Regions from separate parts of the Homo sapiens genome. Here regions 2 and 3 are each linked to region 1. The links come from fine-mapping of genetic effects on gene expression. A gene starts in region 1. Each other region holds a variant in brackets. All regions are shown on one strand. Distances are between the middles of the regions.

The links. PIP is the estimated chance that this variant, and not a neighbour inherited with it, causes the effect.
Region 2: its variant is the best candidate, but not a certain one, in a credible set for the expression of ARRDC1 in whole blood (GTEx, PIP 0.52).
Region 3: its variant is the best candidate, but not a certain one, in a credible set for the expression of ARRDC1 in whole blood (INTERVAL, PIP 0.83).

Annotation. Positions count from the first base shown.
Region 1 is chr9:137,603,437-137,608,654 of GRCh38, reverse strand. ARRDC1 (arrestin domain containing 1) reads right to left here and starts at 2,969. Exons shown (of 8, transcript NM_152285.4): 1 at 2,820-2,969. The coding sequence starts at 2,937. LOC124902318 (a long non-coding RNA gene) reads left to right here and starts at 3,317. Exons shown (of 3, transcript XR_007061885.1): 1 at 3,317-3,358. RefSeq lists silencers at 2,298-2,567, 2,578-3,707.
Region 2 is chr9:137,626,991-137,632,208 of GRCh38, reverse strand. The region is part of intron 1 of EHMT1 (euchromatic histone lysine methyltransferase 1); the gene reads right to left. Among named protein-coding and RNA genes, the nearest start is that of EHMT1, 11 kb to the right of the region's middle. RefSeq lists an enhancer at 3,587-3,646. The variant G/A (reference allele first, on the strand shown) is at 2,390.
Region 3 is chr9:137,637,778-137,642,995 of GRCh38, reverse strand. The region is part of intron 1 of EHMT1 (euchromatic histone lysine methyltransferase 1); the gene reads right to left. It also overlaps the pseudogene SETP5. Among named protein-coding and RNA genes, the nearest start is that of EHMT1, 21 kb to the right of the region's middle. The variant C/T (reference allele first, on the strand shown) is at 2,864.

The sequences.
Region 1 (5,218 bases):
CGGCCATGTTTCTGCCTTTTCAAATCATCGAATCAGGCAGGACCACAGGATGCAGTTCTGCCCACGGAGAAGCCAGAGCAATACATGGGGTCCATTGTGAGGGGTCTCCCTGCTGCTGGCGGCATACGACCCCGCTCCCTCTTCTTTCCAGCTTGCAGACTGCTTGTGATGGCAGAACACGCTGAAGGGAACCGAGCCTTTCGCAACAGGAAAGCCACCAGGCAGGGCTTGGCTGCAGGACTGAGTGGCTCAGTGGCAGTCCCCTAGTCAGAGTGTGACTTCTTCCGCCTTCTGGACTTGAACGTTGCACCTCTTTGCAGGGGCCCTGCAAGCCCTGTCCCTCCTCCCCCATGCAGGTTTAAAAAATGTTTCCTGGCCAGGCACGGTGGCTCACGCCTGTAATCCCAGCACTTTGGGAGGCCGAGGCGGGCGGATCACGAGGTCAGGAGATCCAGACCCTCCTGGCTAACACGGTGAAACCCCGTCTCTACTAAAAATACACAAATTAGCCGGGTGTGGTGGCGGGCGCCTGTAGTCCCAGCTCTTAAGGAGGCTGAGGCAGGAGAATGGCGTGAACCGGGGAGGCGGAGCTTGCAGTGAGCCGAGATCGCGCCGGCACACTCCAGCCTGGGCGACAGAGGGAGACTCCGTCTCGAAAAAATAAATTAAAAAAATAAAAATAAAAAATGTTTCCTGTGTTCAGATGCACAAGCAAGGACAAGCTGCTGGAGGCTGCAGGCCTCTCTGACTCTAAGGAAGATCATGACTGGGCTGCGTTCTCAAGTGACCACTGGAACTTTCTTCTCCAGCTGGGGCTCCCACCTGTTCAGCAGCCCCTCCCTTGCACCACCTGCACTTGGACCATGAAGACCCACCCACTCCTCATCCTCATCCCAAAGGACTCACGCCTGCCACAGAAGCTGTGACCTGTAAGCCACTCCCCCAGTCCTGTTTCCAAATCTGTATCATGAGAGTAACAACCGTGCCACTTGCCAGGGCGCTGAGGGTTAACTGAGGCTGGCCCGTGGCACGTGGAGAGAATTGCATCGGGCCCACCATGAGTGCTCCGAGAACCACTGTCGGCCCTGGTCGCCCATCCCAGTAACAGCAGAACAAGAAGTGGTCCTGCCTGAACCCCAGCCCTGGACTGGGCCAGCCTGAGCTCCAGAAAACTGCTCCCTCCCAGGCCTCCCTCCGCGTCAGCCCTTTAGACAGCCGGTGTCCTCACGGCTGGGTGCTGACTGTCACCGACACTCATCGGCAGAGTAAGTGAGCAAGCTCTGGGGCCCAGGCAGGGCTGCTGTCCTCCTGGGGGCTGAGGGCCTCCCTACTGGCTCCTAGCAGGATTGACAAGCATCCTCTGAATGAGGAAAAGAAACCATGGTCCTTCTGTTCCCATCCCAGGCAGGGCTGGGGGAAACCCCCGGGGGCCCCGGTACACCCTCCCACCTCACTTGCAGCAGCCTGAATCATGTGCTCTCTGGCCCATCAGGGCCCATCTCCTACTCCTTAGCTCACGACCCTCCTTTTTCTCCCTCATTCAGACCAGCCTCTGTGAGGTAGGACCATCAGCCAGTGCTCCCTCGGCTCTTGGGCCAGCTGCCCAAAGTGCTGGGATTACAGGCGTGAGCATTCAACCCACCCACCACGTCCACCCGGAGGCCAGGGGAGCCTGCACACCCAGGCCAGTCACGCACCGCGGGGCCGTCCCTTCCCTGTGGTAAGCAATGGCCTGCTCACCCCAGGCCACGCCAGGGGAAGGACGACAGGGTCCTGCACAGCCCTCAACCAGGATCCAGCCGGCCTCACCACACACCACACCTGTACCCAAGAGATGTGTGTGCTATCTCTGCCCTGCCACGGCCACACCTGCCCCCACCCAGACCCCAAACTCAAGGTTGGGACAGAGGAAGGGAGGCTGTGGGGTCATCCCAGGAGGCCCAGTGGGGCCAGGAGCCTGACAGAAGCACCTACCACCCGGCTTCTTCCGAGGCCCCACAGCCTCAGGCGGTGCAGGGTCAGGGCCACAGCACCATCACCTGTCCCAGGAGGCTGAGAGGACAGAACAGAGACTGTGGGTTCTCAGCAGGCACAAAATCGGTGCTGTTACCCACGCGCGGGCCCAGCGGTCAAGGTCCAGCGGCAAGTCCAGGGGCTGTGGCACAGGCCAAGCAGCCCAGGTGGTTCCCACAGGAGGCCAAGGTAGAGAAGTCCCCGGCAGGGACGCGGCACTCACAGCCAAGGGCCGGGCAGAGGCAGCCTCACCTCGCGGGCCGGCCCTCACCTCCAGGGCGCCCTGCCAGCGGCCACTGCAGCAACCCGATACCCAGTCCCCGAGGCCCAGGCGTCCACCTCGGCGGGGGGCCGGCGAGGCCTGCTGGCGGGTGGCAGGGGGCGCAGGGAGCCGCAGCAGGTGTCTGCACCCCGCCGGGACCGCACGCCCGCGCCAGGAGCGGCTCTGCAGCGGGAGCGCCTGCGCCGGGAGCCAGGGTGCGGGAAGGAGCCCAGCAGGTGCGAGCGCGGACGGGGAGGGTCGCAGGCCTGCGTGCGCCCGCGCTCAGGGCGTCCTCCACAGTGGACCCGCTTCAGGCCCCGCCGGGACCCCGCCGCCCCTCGGCGAGAGGGCAGGAAGGGCAGACGCGGAAGGGCGGCGCCGCCCGGACCTCCCCGGCGCCGCCGAGCCCGCTTCCCAGCAGTCCCGGGCGGCGAAGACAGCGACTCCGCGGGCCCAACCCGGGGCCAGGCGACGGCAGCCGCTTCCGGGAGCCCTGGCCCCGCGCAGGTGCGGCCAAAGGCCCTCCCCGAGGACCCGCGCCCACCTCGGAACGGCAGCGGTGCCCCCAGGCGCACGCGCACGGTCCCAGCCAACGGCTCCCCGGGGCTGTAGACGACGCGGCCGTGGCTCAGGCTGATCTCGAAGAGCTGCACTCGCCCCATGCCGCGGCCTCACCGGCCAGCCGCGCAGCGACGCCCCCGCCCGCCGCCCGCGAGTCCCGGCTCCGAGGCCCGGCCCCGCCCCCTCCTATGCCCCGCCCCCATCCGTCCCAATCCCGGCCTCCACCCCCATCCGGCCCCTCCCAGGCCCTGCCCCGCCCCACGGCCCCGCCCAGCCCCCCGGCCGCCCCGTAGCCCGCGGACTGCCGCTCGGAGGCCCGGCCCAGCCCCTATTCCCCGCCCCATCCGTCCGTGTGGCCCCGCCCCCTCGTTATTCCCCGCCCCTCTGACAGCCTCCTCGCCCCGCCCCCGCCCTTCGCCCCTGCCTCGCCTTCCCAGCTCCGCCCCTGCCTCGGCCGCCCCACCCCTGCCCCGCCCCCCGGCCGCGCTCATCCATCCCCGGCCCTGGCCCTGTCCCGGCTGGGTAGGTGCTGCGCTGCGTCGGGCGCCGCTTAAGGGACTTGAGGCGCAAGCGTCCCGTGCGTCCCCCACGGAGGGAGTCACCGCCGCGTCTCCGTCGGGGGGCAGGGCTGGGGGCGGGGCCGAGGCGAGCTCTGAGACTGGGAAGGTCTCCCCGCTGCACTCTGCTGCGGGCAGAACCCACTCCTCCGCCCCCACCCTCCGCCCGTCCCGCCCAGGGGTCTCCCTCACCCCGAGTCGCGGAAAAACGTCACGGGGCCGCGCGGGCGTCCTGGGCGGGGATGCTCCGCCGCGTAGGACCTGCCCCGCCTCAACCCCCACCCCCGGCTCCTGCCCCGCACCCCCAACCTTCTCCGCACCTACCTCGCGTCCCAGCACCTGTCGCGCCCCTCCGGAACCTGCCCGCCCTCCCGCCTTCCCGGTACCTGCCTACCCCCGCAACTGTCCCGGCCCCCAACACCTGCATCGCCCAACCCCTTCCCCCCCCGCCCCCTGCCTTCCCCGCACCTGCCCGGAGTCCCAGCACCTGCCCCGCCCCCCGCTATCCCCCTCCTTGCTGGCCTGATGGGGTGTGGGCCCAAGGGAGCCACACTTGGGCGGAGGCCCTTGGGCAGGGGTCCGCAGCAGAAGGGTCGGGGGCCAGGTGGGGCGAGGACTTGGATCACTTGAAACCAGGAGGAACACACTCCCATTTATCTTTTTTAAAGGGTCCCTTTGTAGAGAGTGAGCCGCGGGGGGTGGGACTCAAATACCCAGGGGACCTAAGGCGGGAGAGACCGGTTGGGTAGTCCTGGAGAGGGAAGGCGTCGCTCGACAAGGACCAGCTCACCACGGAGTGGGTGTGCGGGCCCCAGTGCTGCGAGTTTTTCTAGGACAGCCGGTGAAGAGGGTGGCCTTCTCTGATGGGGAGGACGGACCTAGATACACATGGTTTGGGGGTGGGAGGGTCATCACATGCAGAGTCTGAGGTGCCACTGATCCCCAATGGACCAAGTACTTCCGTGCATGAGCCTGGGAGTCAAGCACTAAAATGTTGCCATCCCTAGTTGGTAGAAGGTAACAGGTCAGGGAGGAGGAGTCTGGCACCCCAGCAAAGAGAAAGGGGCTCACAGGCTGGAGGGGCCCCCGGGCCAGGCTGGGAGAGGCCCTGAAGCCCCAGGCCCAGCTCACTCCCTTAGGATTCCGATGTTTCCGGAGGTGGGTCTAACTGGCCATGCTCCAGACACTTTCCTGCCAAGGCTATGCACAGGCAGAATTCCCGAACAAGAGAGAAGGGTGCCATGGGATGGCAAGGATTGTGGACAGCCCTCCCGAATGGCAGTCGGCCATGCCAGAAGTCAGAAAGAAGGTGTTTCACCGGGCGCGGTGGCTCGCACCTCTAATCCCAGCACTTTGGGAGGCCGAGGTGGACGGATCACGAGGTCAGGAGATCGAGTCCATCCTGGCTAACATGGTGAAACCCCGTCTCTACTAAAAATACAAAAAGAAAAAAAAAAATTAGCCGGGCGTGGTGACAGGCGCCGTGGTCCCAGCTACTTGGGAGGCTGAGGCAGGAGAATGGCGTGAATCCAGGAGGCGGAGCTTGCAGTGAGCCAAGATCACGCCACTGCACTCCAGCCTGGGCAACAGAGTGAGACTCCATTTCAAAAAAAAAAAACAGAAAAAGAAAAAAAAGAAAGTGTTTCAAGCAAGGGACAGACAGACTGTATTGCAAGCTACTGAGATGGAAGACAATGGACACAGAACACAGGTGGCCTTTATCCCAGGTCAGCCACAATCTAAGCCCCACAGGACTCTGCACATCCTTGATTCTGACCCTATCTCCCACCCATCCTGTGTTCCAGAAACCACCACCAGCACCAAC
Region 2 (5,218 bases), 24 kb before region 1:
TCGACAGGACAGTAACATCTACTGCATCTAAGTGACGCTGAATGAGGGGGATACATTCGGAGATATGCGTCATCAGGTGATTTCATCACTGTGCAAACGTCAAAGAGTGCACTTCTGCAAACCTATTACACATCTAGGCTGTGTGGTGTAGCCCATGGCTTCCAGGCTATAAACCTGCACAGCGCGTTACTGCAGGTAAGTGCAACACAATGACACATGTGCGTCTGAACACAGAAAAGGCAGTGCACTACCCTACTACAAAGCAATGCCCACGACGTGATTAGGCAGTAAGAATTTCTAGCCTCTATTATAATCTTTTTTTTCTTTTTTTGAGACAGGGTCTCACTCTGCTGCCCAGACTGAAGTGCAGTGGCACCAACACGGTTCACTGCAGCCTTGACCTCCTGGTCAAACAACTCTCCCCACCTCAGCCTCCCGGAGTAGCTGGGTCTACAGGCACACACCACAATGCCCAACTAATTTTTCATTATTTTTTGTAGAGACAGGGTCTCATTATGTTGTCCAGGCTGATCTTGAACTCCTGGGCTCAAGTGATCCTCCTGCCTCAGCCTCTCAAAGTGCTGGGATTACAGGTGTGAGCCACCACGCCTGACCTTCATTCTAATCTTAGGGGACCACCTTCATGTATGTGGTCTGCCACGGACCAAAATGTCCTTAAGTGCCACATGACTGTATATTCATAAACATCATGAAATATGCACAGTAATTAAATACTGGTGACCTGCCAAGAGAAGAACTAGTGGCTAGGGAGGTACTTTTTCAATTTTATTTTATTTTTATTTTTATTTTTTTTCCAAGACAGAGGTTCACTCTTGTTACCCAGGCTGGAGTCCAATGGCACGATCTCAGGTCACTGCAACCTCCACCTCCCGGGTTCAAGCGATTCTCCTGCCTCAGCCTCCCGAGTAGCTGGGATTACAGGCGCCCGCCATCACGCCCGGCTAATTTTTTTATATTTTTATTAGAGACAGGGTTCCACCAATGTTGGCCAGGCTGCTCTTGAACTTCTGACGTCAGGTGATCAATCCACCCGCCTCGGCCTCCCAAAGTGGTGGGATTACAGGCATAAGCCACCACACACGGCCATACTTTTTCAATTTTGAACCATGTAACTGTCCTATATGCTCAAAAAATTAAATCTAAACACCTATATCATGACTAACCCATACCACTCAAGCCAAGCCTGCTCACTGGCCCCCTACTTCCGCTCTCCACACAGCAGCCAGGGTCATCTTTTTAAAGTATCATTCCATGCCTAAAATCTTCAAGGACTGTCTACAGTGGTTATGAAACTTCCCAACTTGTTACCATGGTAACAAGGCCCTGGATAACCTTGCCCTGCCTCTCCAGCTTCATCTCATGCCACTATCCCCTTCTGACCTTGTAATTCCACTGTGCACCAAAGGATACAGACCTCACCCAAATCACAGTCGAGGAAACTGGGACTTTTCTATGTCACACACCATGCAGCTACCAAAAACACTGAAGATACGAATGCACGTCAGACAATACGGGACAGAGGAAGTACAACGGCACATAATCACTGATTACCACCAATTTTAAATAAAAACACATACACTCACGAGGATCAGGAAAAAAACAGATGACAAATATATGGCATCCTGAGGTTTCTAGGTTTGATTTCTAAATTTGCTAAAATGCCTAATTTTTGTTAATGTACACTTTGTCCACCTTCTCATGCCAATTCATGTCTCACATCCTTTAAGACCTAGACTATGTGTTGGACAAGAAGCTGTTAAAGGAAAAAAAAGACCTAGACTAACTCATCTTCCTCAAGGAACTTTTCCCCACACATGTGGCCGCAGCAATTGTGGCCATCCAGCAGCCTCTTCTTGTTTACTTTTAACTGACTCTCATTTCCTACTCAGTAATATTTGCTCTGTTCTATTATTAAATTTTGTAACATCAGGGATCAATCTCAAAACTTTGTATGTCCTCTTACAAATACCTAGAATTGCACTGCATAAACAGAAAGTGCTCAAAACAGCATCTTAAATATACTGTGATCAGAACCAGCCTATTACAACTAGAATACAGAAAGAAATCCACAAGCTTTTCCAGAATGAAACAGCAGCTCACAGTGATGTTCCTGGGAAAGTGGCCTCTTATCCAAGAGACTCCATTTCAAAGGAAATGCTACCTCTGAAGAGTTATAGCAGCCACTTTAGCTTTGTTTTTCAAAATCCAAAATCATCAGATTTTTTTTTAATACATGAAAATATTAAAAGTTAAAGAGAAGCAAAACAGTAAGAAAGGAGAATTCTCAGTCCTGGAAGTAATGCTTTCTATATCATACCTGCCATAGGCCAAATTAACTGGGCTCTAATAACTATTCTCAGCCGGGTGC[G/A]GTGGCTCATGCCTATAATCCCAGCACTTTGGGAGGCCGAGGTGGGCGGATCACCTGAGGTCAGGAGTTCGAGACCAGCCTGGCTAACATGGTGAAACCCCGTTTCTACTAAAAATACAAAAAACTGGACCAGGTGCGATGGCTCATGCCTGTAACCTCAGCACTTTGGGAGGCAGAGGCGGGCAGATCACGAGGTCAGGAGAGCGAGACCATCCTGGCTAACACAGTGAAACCCTGTCTCTACTAAAAATACAAAAAATTAGCTAGGCATGGTGGTGGGCGCCTGTAGTCCCAGCTACTTGGGAGACTGAGGCAGAAGAATGGCGAGAACCCAGGAGGCGGAGCTTGCAGTGAGCCGAGATCACGCCACTGCACTCCAGCCTGGGCAACAGAGCGAGACTCCATTTAACAACAACAACAAAAAAACTGGCCAGGTGTGGTGGCTCACGCCGGTAATCCCAACACTTTGGGAGGCCGAGGCAGGCAGATCACCTGAGGTCACGAGTTTGAGACCAGCCTGACGAACATAGAGAAATCCCATCTCTACTAAAAATACAAAATTAGCCAGGCATGGTGGTGGGCGCCTGTAATCCCAGCTACTCGGGAGGCTGAGGCTGGAGAATCGCTTGAACCTGGGAGGCGGAGGTTCCAGTGAGCCAAGATTGCACCACTGCACTCCAGCCTGGGCAACGAGAGCGAAACTCCATCTCAAAAAAAAAAAAAAAATACAAAAGCAAATAACTATTCCCTACCTGGTTTGCTGAGTGAGCAACTTAAAATCAAACTGCCCACTTACCTTAGGATAAAGTAATCCATCAACCATGCTTAATCCAATGAAATGATTGAAAAAAAAAATAAAGTTCCTAAAGAATCCAAAACATGATTCTTATAAGCCAAATTATTTTCAAAGAAAAACTCAATAAAATGTGGTCAAACCTACACAGCTCTTTCAGCACATGACAGGAAGCAGAAGAAGGAAACCAGGGCTCTAGCCCCACCTCTGGCTCTGGCCACGTGTGGGATCTCCAGCAACTAAGGTAGCCACAGACGCTCTTTTCGACATTAGAGCTGAGGCACAAACATCACCCTTGCTGGCCCTTACTATGACTCCAGAACCTTCCGACCACAACCAACAACTGACATAGTAAGATCCGAAGACAGGCAGCCCTTTTCATAGGACAGCTGTGCTTCTAGTTTACGGAAGAATCTGCTTCTCAAGATTTATGGAAAATGCTTCTCAGGCCAGCCACAGCAGTTCACGCCTGTGATCCTAACACTTTCAGAGGCCAAAGCGGGAGAATCGCCTGAGCCCAGTTGGAGATCGGCCTGGGCAACACAGTGAGACTCCATCTCTACAAAATGTTTTATAAATTATATTGTGTAATTAAAAATTAAATGTTTAAGTAATTTTAAAAAAAGAAAAATTGATTCTGATCCTCTCTTCTCTTAGCAAAAATCAATCAAAGACAAGAAAAGCAGGAAAGAGACACATAAACCCCAAGACATGTGAAATCCCTAAATAGAACACAAATAGGAAGACAGAGAGGTAGAGGAGAGCTAACCTATCCCACAGAGTAGAGGAAGGAGAAACTTAAATAAAGGAGTTGCAGCTGAGCAGCTGGCAGACTGACCCCAGAAAACACAGAAGGGTGGGGACAATGGGGGTGATGCCTGCAACTACAAAGGGGAATGCGGGCAAAACTCCACCTGAGAACAGCTGACCTCTCAGGTCTCCTCCTCAAGCAAGTACTGGTCTTCTGTAGCCACAAGACACCAGACGTTTAGCCCCATAAAAAGGTCCACCAAAAATGGCCGGGCATGGTGGCTCACACCTGTAATCCCATTATTTTGGGAGACCCAGGAGGGTGGATCACTTGAGGTCAGAAGTTCAAGACCAGCCTGGCCAACATGGCGAAACTCCCTCTCTACTAAAAATACAAAAAGTAGCCACACGTGGTGGTGCACAACTATAATCCCAGCTACTTGGGGGTGGGGGGGTAATGAGGCAGGAGAATTGCTTGAACCCAGGAGGCAGAGGTTGCAGTGAGCCGAGATCACACCACTGCACTCCAGCCTGGGCGACAAGACCAAGACTCTGTCTCAAAAAAAAAAAAAAATCCAGCTTATACCAGCAAGGCAAGAAATTGAGGGATCCTTCAAGAAAACCAAACCAGCAGACAGAACCTCTGCAAAAGGGCCGGGCGCGGCGGCTCACGCCTGTCATCCCAGCATTTTGGGAGGCTGAGGTGGGCAAATCACGGGCGCAGCGGCTCACGCCTGTCATCCCAGCATTTTGGGAGGCTGAGGTGGGCAAATCACCTGAGATCAGGGGTTTGAGACCAGCCTGACCAACATGGTGAAACCCCGTTTCTACTAAATATACAAAAAAATTATCCCGGAGTGGTGGTGCGCACCTGTAATCCCAGCTACTTGGGAGGCTGAGGTAAGAGAATCGTTTGAACCCGGGAGGTGGAGGTTGCAGTGAGCCAAGATCACGCCATTGCACTCCAGCGTGGGTGACAGAAAGAGATGCCATCTCAAAAAAAAAAAAAAAAAAAAAATGGCCAGGCATGGTGGTTCATGCCTACAATCCTAGCACTTTGGGAGGCAAGGGGGGTGGGTCACCTGAGGTCAGCAGTTTGAGACCAGCCTGGCCAACATGGTGAAACCCTGTCTCTACCAAAAATACAAAAATTAGCCGAGCGTGGTGGCGCACGCCTATAATCCCAGCTACTAGGGGGTGCGAAGGCAGGAGAAGCGCTTGAACCTGGGAGATGGAGGTCACAGTGAGCTGAGATGGGGCCACTGCACTCCAGCCTAGGCAACAAA
Region 3 (5,218 bases), 34 kb before region 1:
AGGCAGGAGGATCTCTTTAGCCCAGGAGGTCAAGGCTGCAGTGCTATGATTGTGCCACTGTACTCCCACCTGGGTGACAGAGCGAGACCCTGTCAAGAGGGGAGGGGAGGGGAATGCAATCAAGAGCGCCAGTAAAAGCAGCTACACAGGTAAAGTATAAAAGCAGCTACATAAGACAGTATAAATGTATTTGTTAATTTATAATTTGTTTTTTCTCCTATATGATTTGAAAGACAATTGCGTAAAGCAGCAACTATAAATCTGCGTAGATGGGCACACAGTGTAATGTAATTTGTATGACAATAACAGTACAAGAAGGGCAAAAGAAATTAAGCTATGCCCAAATAAATATTTCATATAGTATTGTAATATAGTATTAATACAAACTACATTATCAAAAATTAATATACTAAATTGTAATCCCCAGGACAACCAAGAAAACAAATAAAAAATACAGTCAAATAAACAGCAAGGGAATTAAAATGGTATACACTAGAAAATATCTAACACAAAAGAAGAAAGCAATGAGTCAGGCGTTGTGGTACGCCTGCAGTCCCAGCTACTCAGGAGGCTGAGGTGGGAGGATCCTGTGAGCCCGGGAGTTCAAGGCCACGGTGCACTATGATCATGCCTATGAATACTCACTGCGCTCCAGCCTGGGCAACATAGTGAAACTCCATCTCCATGAAGAACAAAAACTAACTGAGGCAGAAAGTAACAAAAAAGACAGAAGACGCAGAAAGCAAATACAAAATCGACAAGTATAAACCCTACCTTTCAGTAATTACATTAGATGAAACGCATTACCTGTCCCACATGAAAAGTAGAGACTGGGGGAATAGATTAAAAAATTTGGGGCCGGGCGCAGTGGCTCACACCTGTAATCCCAGCACTTTGGGAGGCCGAGGCGGGTGGATCACCTGAGGTCAGGAGTTCAGGACCAGCTTGGCCAACTTGACGAAACTCCGTCTCTACTAAAAATACAAAAATTAGCCAGGCATGGTGGTGGGTGCCTGTAGTCCCAGCTACTCAGGAGGCTGAGGCAGGAGAACAGCTTGAACCATGGAGTTGGAGGGCATGGGGGCAGAGGTTGCCATGAGCCAAGGTCATGCCACTGTACTCCAGCCTGGGTGACAGAGCGAGACTCCATGTCAAAAAAAAAAAAAATGTGATCTTAGTCCTATGAGCTTCTTCCTGATGAGCAAGGAGGCCCTTGGGTCCAGACTCTCCTCCCGGAATGACCCCCAAACACCCGTCTCTGCCCCTGCCTGAAAGGAAGACATGGCGCCAGCCCCTGACAGAGGCCAGAGGAAGAGAGGAACAGAACAAGCGGCAACCAAGCCCACGAGGAAGCACAGCACAAAACAGGCTTCAGAAACAGGCTTAGCAAGTGAGCGGCAAGCGGACTGGGAGAGCGAACATAGACAAATTCGGCCAACCACGTTCTTCAGGGCAGATGAGAATTGATTCCCAAAATCCCCAATTTCTGGGTAATAACATTTGTCAGCCATCCACAAGCGTCTGCACTGCTTGGGAGGAGGATGAAGAGGCACTGCATTGTTTGACCAGTGCTGAAGTGACAGAATTTGAAGATATTAAATCAGGTTACAGAATAGGTTTTTATTTTGACGAAAATCCTTACTTCAAAAATAAAGCTCTCTCAAAGAATTTCATCTGAATGAGAGTCATGATCCATCTTCAAAGTCCACGGAAATCAAATGGAAATCTGGAAAGGAAACTCTTCAAGTCAAATGCAGAATAAAGCCAGTAGGAAGAGGCATCCTGAGGAACCAGACAGGTTCTTCACCTGGTTTACTGGCCATTCTGACGCAGGTGCAGATGAGTTAGGAGAGGTCAGCAAAGACCATACTTGGCCAAATTCATCACAGTGCTCCTTGGTTCCCAATATGGATGATAAAGAAGGAGAAGACGAAGATGATGAGGAGGAGGAACTGGAAGACACTGATGAGGAACGGGATAAGGAGAAGATAACTAATAGAACACACATGGATTAGAACCTTCCTTTTTTAAAGCTGTCTCCAGTTCCCGGGAGCAAGGTGCAGTCTTGCTTTTTCCCTCTTGTGCTCACCCAGTTCTTGAGGTCTCTTTTGTCTACACCGTGGATCTCAACTTATCTGGGGGGGAAATACCTTGAGGAGAATAAAATGTGAAAAGAATCTCTACCTCTTTCTGTTTCAAACTCATTTTTATCCCTTCCTATCTCAACAAACTTGTATGGAATCAACATCACCATGTTCTATGGAAAAAAGAACAACTTTCTGCCCCCTTTGCACTGTTGGAAGCTAAAGGGCGCCAGGCCCCTATAATGCAGAGAATTCTAGCATTTTTTCCTTCTCTGCATATTGGGCTCAGAGAAAACATGTATCTACTTGCTCTTGATTAAAAAAAGAAAATTTCAGACCAGGCACAGGGGTGCACACCTGTAATCCTAGCACTTTGGGAGACCAAGATGGGAGGATCACTTGAGGCCAGGAGTTCAAAACCAGCCTGAGCAACATAGGAAGACCCCATCTTTACAAAAAATTTAAAAATTAGCTGGACATAGTGGCAGATGCCAGTGGTCCCAGCTGATCAGGAAGCCAAGGTGGGAGGACTGCTTGAGCCCAGGGTCAAGGCTGCAGTGAGCTATGATCACGCCACTGCACTCCAGCCAGGGTAACAGCAAGACCAGGTCTCTAAAACACACAAAAATAAAACAAAACAAAAATTAAAATTAAAAGCTTTAAAAAATAAGGTTACAGGCCAGGCACGGTGGCTCACACCCGTAATCCCAGCACTTTGGGAGGCCGAGGCAGGCGGATCACCTGAGTTCAGGAGTTCAAGAACAGCCTGGCCAACACAG[C/T]GAAACCCCATCTCTACTAAAAATATAAAACTTAGCCGGGCACAGTGGCACATGCCTGTAATCCTAGCTACTCGGGAGGCAGAGGCAGGACAATCACTCGAACCCGGGAGGCAGAGGTTACGGTGAGCCAAGATCGCGCCATTGCACTCCAGCCTGGGCAACAAGAGCGAGACTCCGTCTCTAAATAAATAAGGTTACAGAAGGCCAGCAAAGGGTGGGTCTCAAATGTCTGGTGGGTTGAGTGGGCATTCTGATATCACAGCTCCTCCTCTGGCTGATTAATGGGGAGGTACAACAGACATCCTTGCAGTCTAAGGTGACACTTTAAAAATAAAATCTCTTCTATCAGGTAAGAAAAATACATATATATGATTCAACTGCTGAATCTACAAGATCCGATCTCAGATGGAAAGGACTGTAAGAGACATCCCTTCGATTGAAGATACAAAGAGATTAAAAGGCCAGAAAAAGATATAGTATGCAAAAATAAACCATAAAAAAACTGAAGTGGCTATACTGACATCAGACAAAATAGACTTTAAAACAAAAACATTTATAGAGACAAAGAGGGACATTTCATAATGAGAGAAGTGTCAAAACACCCAGGCAGATGTAACAACTATAAACACACGCAAGATAACATAGTCTCAAAACACGAGGCAAAAACCAACAGAACTGAAAGTGAAAATGTAAAATTCGACAGTACTGTAGATCTCATACTCTACTCTCAATAACTAATAGAACTAGAAAGAAAATGAGAAAGAATAAGGAAGACTTAATACTATCAACCAATTCAATCTGACATATAGGGAACATTCCACCTAATAAATTCATAATGCACATTATTTTCAAGCACTGATGAAACATTCCCCAGGACAGAATATAATACGGGATTTTTTTTTTAATCTAACAAATTAAACACACTGAAACTATACAAAGTATAATTCTGACCATACAGGAATTACATTAGAAATCAACAAAACAAAGAAATCCAGGAAATACCTAAATATTTAGAAATTAAATGACACACTTCTAAAGTCACAAGGGAAAATAGAAAATATTCTGAACTGAATAAAAATGAAAATACAACATATCAACATTTATAGGAAGCAGCCTGTTTTTTCCTAGGACACATGTAACAATAGAAATGTATGGTCTCGAAGTTCTGAAGGCTGGAAGTCCACAATGAAGGTGTCAGTAGGCCTTGTGGTCTGTAATGGCTTTGGAGTGCCATCCCCTGCCTCGGCCAGGCTCTGGGGTCTGCTGGCCGTCCCTGACACTCCTTGGCTTATGGAAGCATCACCCCAGTCATGCGCCACTTCTCCCTGTGTGTCCGCATGCTGTCTTCCTTCTGTGCATGTCTGTGTTCACAAGGCATCCTTTTTTTTTTATGAGGACACGTAAGTCATACTGGATTAGAGGCCTACCCTACTCAACTATGATTTCATCTTAACTAATCTGCAATGACCCTATTTCCAAATAAGGTCAAATTCTGAAGTATGGGGTTTAGGACTTCAACATATTTTTTAGGGGAATGCAATTTATTCTATAACATAGCTAAAAGCATTAAGAAACTAGTAAAAAACTAGGCCGGGTGCAGTGGCTCATGCCTGCAATCCCAACACTTTGGGAGGCCAAGGCGGGTGGATCATTTGAAGTCAGGAGTTTGAGACCACCTCGGCCAACATGGTGAGACATCATCTCTACTAAAAATACAAAAATTAGCCGGGCGTGGTGGCGGGTGCCTGTAATCTCAGCTACTTGGGAGGCTGAGGTGGGTGGATCACCTGAGGTCAGGAGCGCGAGACCAGCACAGCCAACATGGTGAAACTCCGTCTCCTAAAAATGCAAAAAATTAGCTGGGCATGGTGGCGCACGCCTATATTCCCAACTATTCAGGAGGCAGAGGCAGGAGAATTGCTTGAACCCAGGAGGCGGAGCTTGCAGTGAGCCGAGATCGCACCACTGCACTCCAGCCTGGGCAAAAGGGCGAGACTCCATCTTAAAAAAAAAAAAAAGTTGCTTCTCTGAAAAATTCAACATAATTCACAAAACTTTAGCTAGAATGACCAAGAAAAAGAGAAAAATGACCCCACTTACCAAAATTTATTAGCGTCAAAGGGGAACACAAGCCCTGACAGAAATAAAAATGGTCACAGGGAACATACGAGCAACTGCATACCGGAAACTAGATAACCTGGATGCCATGAACAAATTCTCAGAAAGACCCACAACAACAAAGATAACTCAGGAATAAACAGAAAACCTACACACCTAGAACAAATAAGGAAATTAATAATTTTTAAAGCTTCCAACAAAGAAAAGCCAAGATCCAGATGGCTTCGCAGGTGAATT